Homo sapiens: one gene and its partner. The protein of the gene in region 2 interacts with the protein of the main gene of each other region in a biochemical or structural test. Each region holds a gene or a part of one and is shown on either strand. Other genes may lie near its edges.

Region 1 (3,500 bases), about 69 Mb from region 2:
CAGGTAGCAGCTGGTGGGGCAGAAGCCCACTGAGGAGGGAGAAGGGGGTTGGCAGGATGGGGAACTGAGTGGCTAGAGAAGGGATGGCAAAAATTTGTCAAAGGCATCTCTGAGAGTTCCAAGACGTAGCGACTTTGTATATTAGAGCCACCAGGAGGGGAGGAGGAGAGAAGCTCAGTTTCAACATGTTGAGTTTGAGGTGCCCTTGAGGAACCCAGCTGGGAGTAAGGAGTTGACCTTGGGGATGACGCTGGAGCAAGATAATGGACTGGGGCTCACTGGCAGAGGGAAGGCAGGTATGAGCAGACGGGCACCAGGCTCTCAGAGCCCTGGCCTCCTGTTGAGGTGTCTTTGTTGACAGCTGGGGGACCTTGGGCATGCCATTTCACCTCTCTGTCCTCTCCTGTAAAACGGGCGTCATGATTTTTGCCTTGTAGGGGGGACCATGAGAATAAAAATGTTTTGAAAATAGCAAAGACATAACTAAGGTGAAGCATTACTCTCAGAGGGATAGTTGGAGCCACGGGGCGGGTGGCAGGCCAGGGCCCTATGGAAGGGGAGTAGGCAGAGGGAGGAGGCCGAGGCTGTGTGGCCAGGGCTGGATGTCCAGGCTGAGAGTGCCCTGGAGACAGGCTGTCTGTGGTTGGGGTGGGTTGGGCTTCTGTGAGCAGCTGCTGGGAGACGGGTGTCGGGGGAGTGTCAGGGGCCAGCGGGAAAGGCCAGAAAGGCTTGAGAGATGTAAGTAGTTGTCCAGTTGAGAGGGCAGCTGCAGGGACACCCTGGGAGGCATAACTGTGACCCGTGGGCACCCAGGGGACTTTGTTCTCTTGCCTTCTTCCCACCCTTAATATTATAATATCTGGGTTGTTCATCTGTGGGGAAGGAAGTGCTGCTGATCTTGATGGGAGGGAAACGTAGGCTCTAGCTCACCTTCTGGAGGCGGGGCACCAGGTTTGTACTGCAACCAGTGCCTTGGTCTGGTGGTGCGGCGCTGTGTAGCGGAAACCTGGCCCCTGAAAGTTCCTCCTCGCAGTGAGTGAGGCTGGGGAATGCCGAGCACTTGGTGCTGCCCCGAGCCCCTTTTTGGGCCAGCTCATGACTGAATGTGTGTGTTTCTGGGATGTGGGCTGGGGCCCCATTCTTGGGTGCAGCCCTTCTCCTTGCACTTCTCCTCCCAGAGCCTGCCAGTGGAGACACTGGGCCCGGCATCCAGGATGGACCCAGAATCTGAGAGAGCCCTGCAGGCCCCTCACAGCCCCTCCAAGACAGATGGGAAAGAATTAGCTGGGACCATGGATGGAGAAGGTACTGGGCCCTGCTTAGGACATAGCTTACCGGACAAAGCTATTCTCCATATTTTGGGGTTTCTCAGTTTCCTCAGAGAAAGGGAGGCTGGTTCGTTTTAGTTCCTCCATTAATCTCAGTTGACAAACTCCTTTTCTCATTCCATCCTGGCTTTTTCCTGCCTCTTCCAACCTGGTAGGGGCCCGTGGGATGGACAGAGGGCTGCAAAGGAAATTCAGCTGGGGCAGTGGGTTTTTCTGCGCCTTTTCTCCTACCGCAGGGACGCTCTTCCAGACTGAAAGCCCTCAGTCTGGCAGCATTCTAACAGAGGAGACTGAGGTCAAGGTGAGGAGATTTGCTGTGGGAAGGAAGGGAGGCGGGGAGGGCTAGCAGCTGCTCACTGCTGCATCTGCATTAGGGCACCCTGGAAGGTGATGTTTGTGGTGTGGAGCCTCCTGGCCCAGGAGACACAGTAGTCCAGGGAGACCTGCAGGAGACCACCGTGGTGACAGGCCTGGGACCAGACACACAGGACCTGGAAGGCCAGAGCCCTCCACAGAGCCTGCCTTCAACCCCCAAAGCAGGTGAGAGTCTTCCTTGCCTCTCCTGTCACTCTCCTTCTAGAAGGTATGGGAGAGGGATCAGCCATCACTACTGAGCACATGCTGTGGTCCAGGCCCTAGGGCTGAGCAGCTTGGTGCTCTCCTTTCTCACCACTACCCCTGGGACGTTGAGGCCCAGAAAGGTTGAATGACTTGACCAAGGTCACACTGCTGGTAAGGGGCAGGGCCCACATCTGGTTGACTCTTTCCTCTCTGCCATGGGGACCTCCTCTTTTCTTGCTTCCAGAATTCAACCCTCATTTCTGGAGTCCCTTCCTTGTGCTGGCCCTGGGCCTGGGCAGAGGGAAGATGGTTGGTTACCGCCTATGTAAGCGGCAGATCAGACTGAGCCAAGGTGCATATCAGACCTAAGAGTGGTACAGAACTGTAATTAAGGTACTCCCAAAGGAAGGAGAGGCCATTCAGTCAGGGGACTGGTTGAGGGCAAGGGAGAGGCTGGGACAGTGAGAGGTGACATTTGAGTGGAGCCCTGAGCACAGAGTAGGCTTTTGGTACGTAGGGCAGGGAAAAGAGAATGTTTTAGGCCAAGGCTGCAGCATCAGCAAAGGAGTGGGGACCACCTGTCTTGTGCTAAGGAGCTCTGTTCCAGGCTTGTGGCAGAGGAGTGTAGGAATTGGTCCCTGTTGAGTGACAGGATGGAGGGCCTGGGGGCCATTTAGGAGGCAACTGCAGTGGTCAGGCAAAGATGATGCAGACCTGGGCCAGGCATGGTGGCTCGTGCCTATAATCCCAGCACTTTGGGAGGCTGAGGTAGGAGGATTGCTTGAGCCCAGGAATTCAAGACTGCAGTGAGCCATGGTCATCCCACTTCACTCTAGCCTGGGCAACAGAGGGAGACCCTGTCTCTAAAGGAAATAAAAATAGGCGGCAGGGTGCAGTGGCTCACGCCTGTAGTCCCAGCACTTTGAGAGGCCAAGGTGGGTGGATCACCTGAGGTCAGAAGTTTGAGACCAGCCTGGGCAACATGGTGAAACCCCGTCTCTATTAAAAATACAAAAATTAGCTCGGTGTGGTGGTGCACGCCTGTAGTCCCAGCTACTTCCCAGCTACCTGGGAAGCTGAGGCAGGAGAATCGCTTGAACCTGGGAGGCGGAGGTTGCAGTGAGCCAAGATTGTGCCACTGCACTCCAGCCTGGGTTACAGAGGTAGACTCTGCCTCAAAAAATAAAAATAAATAAAATAAAATAAAATAAAATAAAATAAATAAAAATAAAAATAGGCTGGGTGTGGTGGCTCACACCTGTAATCCTCACACTTTGGGAGGCACAGGCAGGAGGGGCTGGGCTAGGGTAACCCACCTAGGCCAGGCGTCTGTCCTAGCATCCTCCCCCAAAAGGAATGTTTCCTATTTACCCACACATCCTGACCCTCCCCTCTCCCACTATAGTCAGGGCGTCTTCCCAGTTCTTGGTTCACATCCCTTGTGCTAAGGTTTGGGCCAGGGCTGGCATACCTGTTCCACATGGTACATGAAACATACATGGTATCACCTGTGATTGATTGGTGTGGTCTGCCTGGAGCACTGTGTGGAAAAGGATTTAAAGAACATGCCAGGTGCCATGATCAGTTAACACTGTTCCAGGTATGGGAGGT
Region 2 (3,500 bases):
TCTTAGAGATGGAGGTGATAAGAAAGTGCCTGCCTCAGAAGTTTGTTGGGAAGGTTAGATAGAATGTTATGCAGGCTGAATATCCCTTATCTGAAATTCCTGGGGCCAGAAGTGTTTCCTATTTTGGATTTTTTTGGATTTTGGAATATTTGTATATACATAACATATCTTAGGGATGGAACTCAAGTCTAATGACAAAACTCATTTCTGTTTCATATATAATTTATACACATAGGCTGAAGGTAATTCTATAGCATATTTAAAATAATTTTGTGCATGAAACAAAGTTTTGACTGTGTTTTGACTGCGACCTGTCACCTGAGGTCAAGTGTCGAATTTTCCACCTGTGGTATCATGTTGGGGCTGAAAAAGTTTTGGATTTTGGAGCATTTCAGATTTCACATTTTCAGATTATGGATCCTCACCCTGTGTACAAAACACTTAGGATAGTTCCAAGCACTGAAGGTGTGCCCCATAATTGGCAGATGTCATCATGTTCAGACAACTGCTGACGGACTAAGCCATGAAGGCAGAAGAATCAAGGGGCTCAACAAAGGCTGGACCAGAGGAGAAATCTTCACCCCATCTGGGCAGCGCCCAGTCAACATTTGCTGATTGAAGTGAGTATGGGGCAACAAACAGGGCCTGATATGTGGAGGGCTCCCTGGGTGCCGGGACAAGGTTCCCTTGTAGGCTCGGCTGCCTGGGTGTGGGGTGCATAGAGCAGCTCATGGCCGTGAAGTGGGATTGAGCACTGCTTCCGTGAGCATGGCGGAAGGTCAGGCTGAAGGTCATGATGGGCGCTGGGGAATCTAGGGCCTGGAGAGGACATCACAGAAACAGTGGCTCTTGGGTTTGTCCTGGGTAGGGCAGGAGGTAAGGGATTGAGAAAGAGAGCTCGGGGAGAAAAGGCTCAGGGAAAAGAAAAGGCTCAGGGAGAAAGAAGACAGAGAGGGTTCCAGTGAGCAGGAGCTGCCTCCTGGGGCTGCTAGGCTGGGGTGTGGTACACAGGGTGGGGTAAGGGGAGCTTTGGCCTTTGGTGGCCCCGCATTGCAACAGCCCTTATATGCAACAGCCCTTACTCGGGTAGTTCCTGCAACCTCCCGCGGTGGAGCCCCGCCTCCAGTTCCCATCCATTTTGGTGAGTTTCCACTTCTTGTAGGTATCGCTGGTGAGAGTGTCTGGGGTCAGGTTACAGATCTCCAGGCGGGAATAGTGCCTCAGGAAGTCACTGAAAGACATCCTGGCAAAAGCAGAGACAATCATCACAGGTGATAAGAAGACACACTGGTAAGCCTTGACTTTCCACCAACACCAGACCAGGAGCCACCCAAAGCCAGGCAGAGCAGCTCATTAGAACTGAGTGGATGGGCACCAGGTTCAGAATCAGAAGGCCCAGATTCCAGTCCTGGCGCTGCAACTTTCTAGCTGGGTGACTTTGAGCAGGTTACTTAAACTTCTCTGAAGCTCAGAACTCTCACCTGCAAAAATGGGAGCCGTGCCCATCAAATGTGACAATATATGGGCCCCATTTGATAAAGAGCATGTTGTGTCCAGGTGCAGGTGGTTATAGAGTGGCGCAGACACACAGACATGTGGGTCCATTGCTGCTCACTAAGGGACCAGTTTCTTAAGGGGCTGGGATGAGTCTCCGGAACCTGGGGGAGAAAGGCCCCATCTTTCCCTTGTTTCCTGGGATCTGAACATTACCAAAGGAATTCCTCTTAGCCTTTTTCTGAAGCTGCTCAGCTTATAAACCCCATTGTCAAGATGGACCGTTGAAGGGGCTTAAGAATTTCTTTATTCAGGCTCTTATAGTGAACTTAAAATAACAAAACCAGGATCCCACACGCTTGTGTCCTCGACATGGTAAACTCACTTTGGCCGACACTCTTTCTAATTAGCAGTTTTCTAGTAAAGAACATTGGGGCAGACAGAGCTTTCCCTGAAGCCTCCACTAATCTTACCAGAATTCTCCATCTTCATGCCGTCTGGTCAGCCTTTCCCTCTCCTCTGGGTCTATAGTGTTCCAGCTTGGGCAGCTGGAAAACAAAGTAAAGAGAGAGGCGTTAGTGTACGATGATTTCTCCCCAAAGGCCCCAGAGTTGAGGAAGAGGGACATCTGCTCTCACCTCTGAGGGCTCAGGCTCCAGAAAGGGGGAAAGTAGCCCACATCTGGCTAACAGCTGCATTTTAATACTCTTACAGCACTTTAAAGAGTATAGAACACTATACAGATGCAAACCAGGGAGCAAAGTGAGCGGGTGAGTTGTGCTGGAAGACAGTGGCAAGGAAGAGTCCAGAAAATGAACATAGTTCATTAGAGGGAGATGGAGTAGCTCAGAGCAGTTGCCCAATTGAGATGGGCCTGGCAGCTCTTTTAGAGACAACTGAAGATCTGATGAGGAGCCTCCGGCTGAGGCCTGGGAAGCCTCAGCAGGTGTCTCTCTGTCCACGGAGCAGAAGGACCTGGCCCTGTACACAGGGGCAGTGCACAGGGTAAACTAACCACTGCCTGAGCTTTGGCTGGAATTACACACAGGCCTCTGTACTGCCCACCTCTCCAACCTGAGGCAGAGCAAGTAGGCTGAGGTTGCCACAGCAGATGTACAAACAAGTGTTTACCCCAAATAGTTGAGGGTTCAACATGCCTACCAGTAAGCCCTGGAAATCAACAGAGGGATGTTTCTCTGGCCTTTGGTACAAAGTTCACATCCCTGTAATAGAAGTGCCTGGGGGAAGGTGGGGTGTATTTTTTTCCCTGAAAGCCCCATAGAAGGGTGGATTTGAGCTAGGGAAGGGGTGAACCTGGAGGCAGTGGCAGGAATGAACTTCACACGAGCAGCTTGGGGCCTGGAAGAAGGCACTCAGGCTGCTGGAGGAGTGTCCTGGTTAAAAGACCCTTTGAGGGGCCCCTGTCCACGGGTCCCTGTCCACGTGGCCTGGGCTCTCCTGGCTATATTTCTCAGAATAATGCACATGTCTTCTTCTCTCGCCCTCTTCCCAGAGCCTCCCAGCACAATGCACCCCCGCCTGGGGCCCCGAGGCCTGCGCCCTCCTCACTTGTCATTCCACCGCCCTGTCCACTCCACTTCTCCCCAGGGATTTCGGATGCGGATCAGTTTCTGTAGGCTTCCGTTACTTTCAACCTGCAGGATTAGATAAAAGGGAGGAGTAAGAGGTTGAGTTCAAGTCAGGGCTATGAAGGCTTGGGCCTCCAACCCCCTTCCGCATGAGCCAGGAGGTATGGGGCTGAGGACGGTGGGGAGGATTTGGGGGTTGAGTCCATGTATGAGGGAGGATCACAAGAGCTAGAGGGGGCTTGGCACCCAGACCTCTCACTGCTGCCTAGCTTTGGAAAATGAGATTTAAAGCTCCCAGGATCCGGCTCTCGAGGATGGGGCTGTTGGTGCTTCATCTCTGAACTTCAGCTTAACTGACAGGATGCGCTTTTGGTAAAGGAGCTCAGAGAAGCTTTACCATTTGTTGAAAGATCACTG

Evidence for each region. The genes of interacting proteins can lie anywhere in the genome.
Region 1: of the proteins of CAPN2 (region 2) and PBXIP1, one has a biochemical effect on the other in vitro, tested with the Homo sapiens proteins (one study listed by BioGRID).

What each region holds. Positions count from the first base shown.
Region 1 is NC_000001.11:154,949,600-154,953,099, reverse strand, and holds part of PBXIP1 (pre-B-cell leukemia transcription factor-interacting protein 1), read left to right. Parts: intron 1-1,178; coding exon 1,179-1,305; intron 1,306-1,564; coding exon 1,565-1,629; intron 1,630-1,702; coding exon 1,703-1,868; intron 1,869-3,500. UniProt on the Homo sapiens protein: Regulator of pre-B-cell leukemia transcription factors (BPXs) function. Inhibits the binding of PBX1-HOX complex to DNA and blocks the transcriptional activity of E2A-PBX1.
Region 2 is NC_000001.11:223,750,539-223,754,038, reverse strand, and holds part of CAPN2 (calpain-2 catalytic subunit), read right to left. Parts: intron 3,150-3,500; coding exon 3,064-3,149; intron 2,043-3,063; coding exon 1,968-2,042; intron 1,244-1,967; coding exon 1,083-1,243; intron 1-1,082. UniProt on the Homo sapiens protein: Calcium-regulated non-lysosomal thiol-protease which catalyzes limited proteolysis of substrates involved in cytoskeletal remodeling and signal transduction. Proteolytically cleaves MYOC at 'Arg-226'.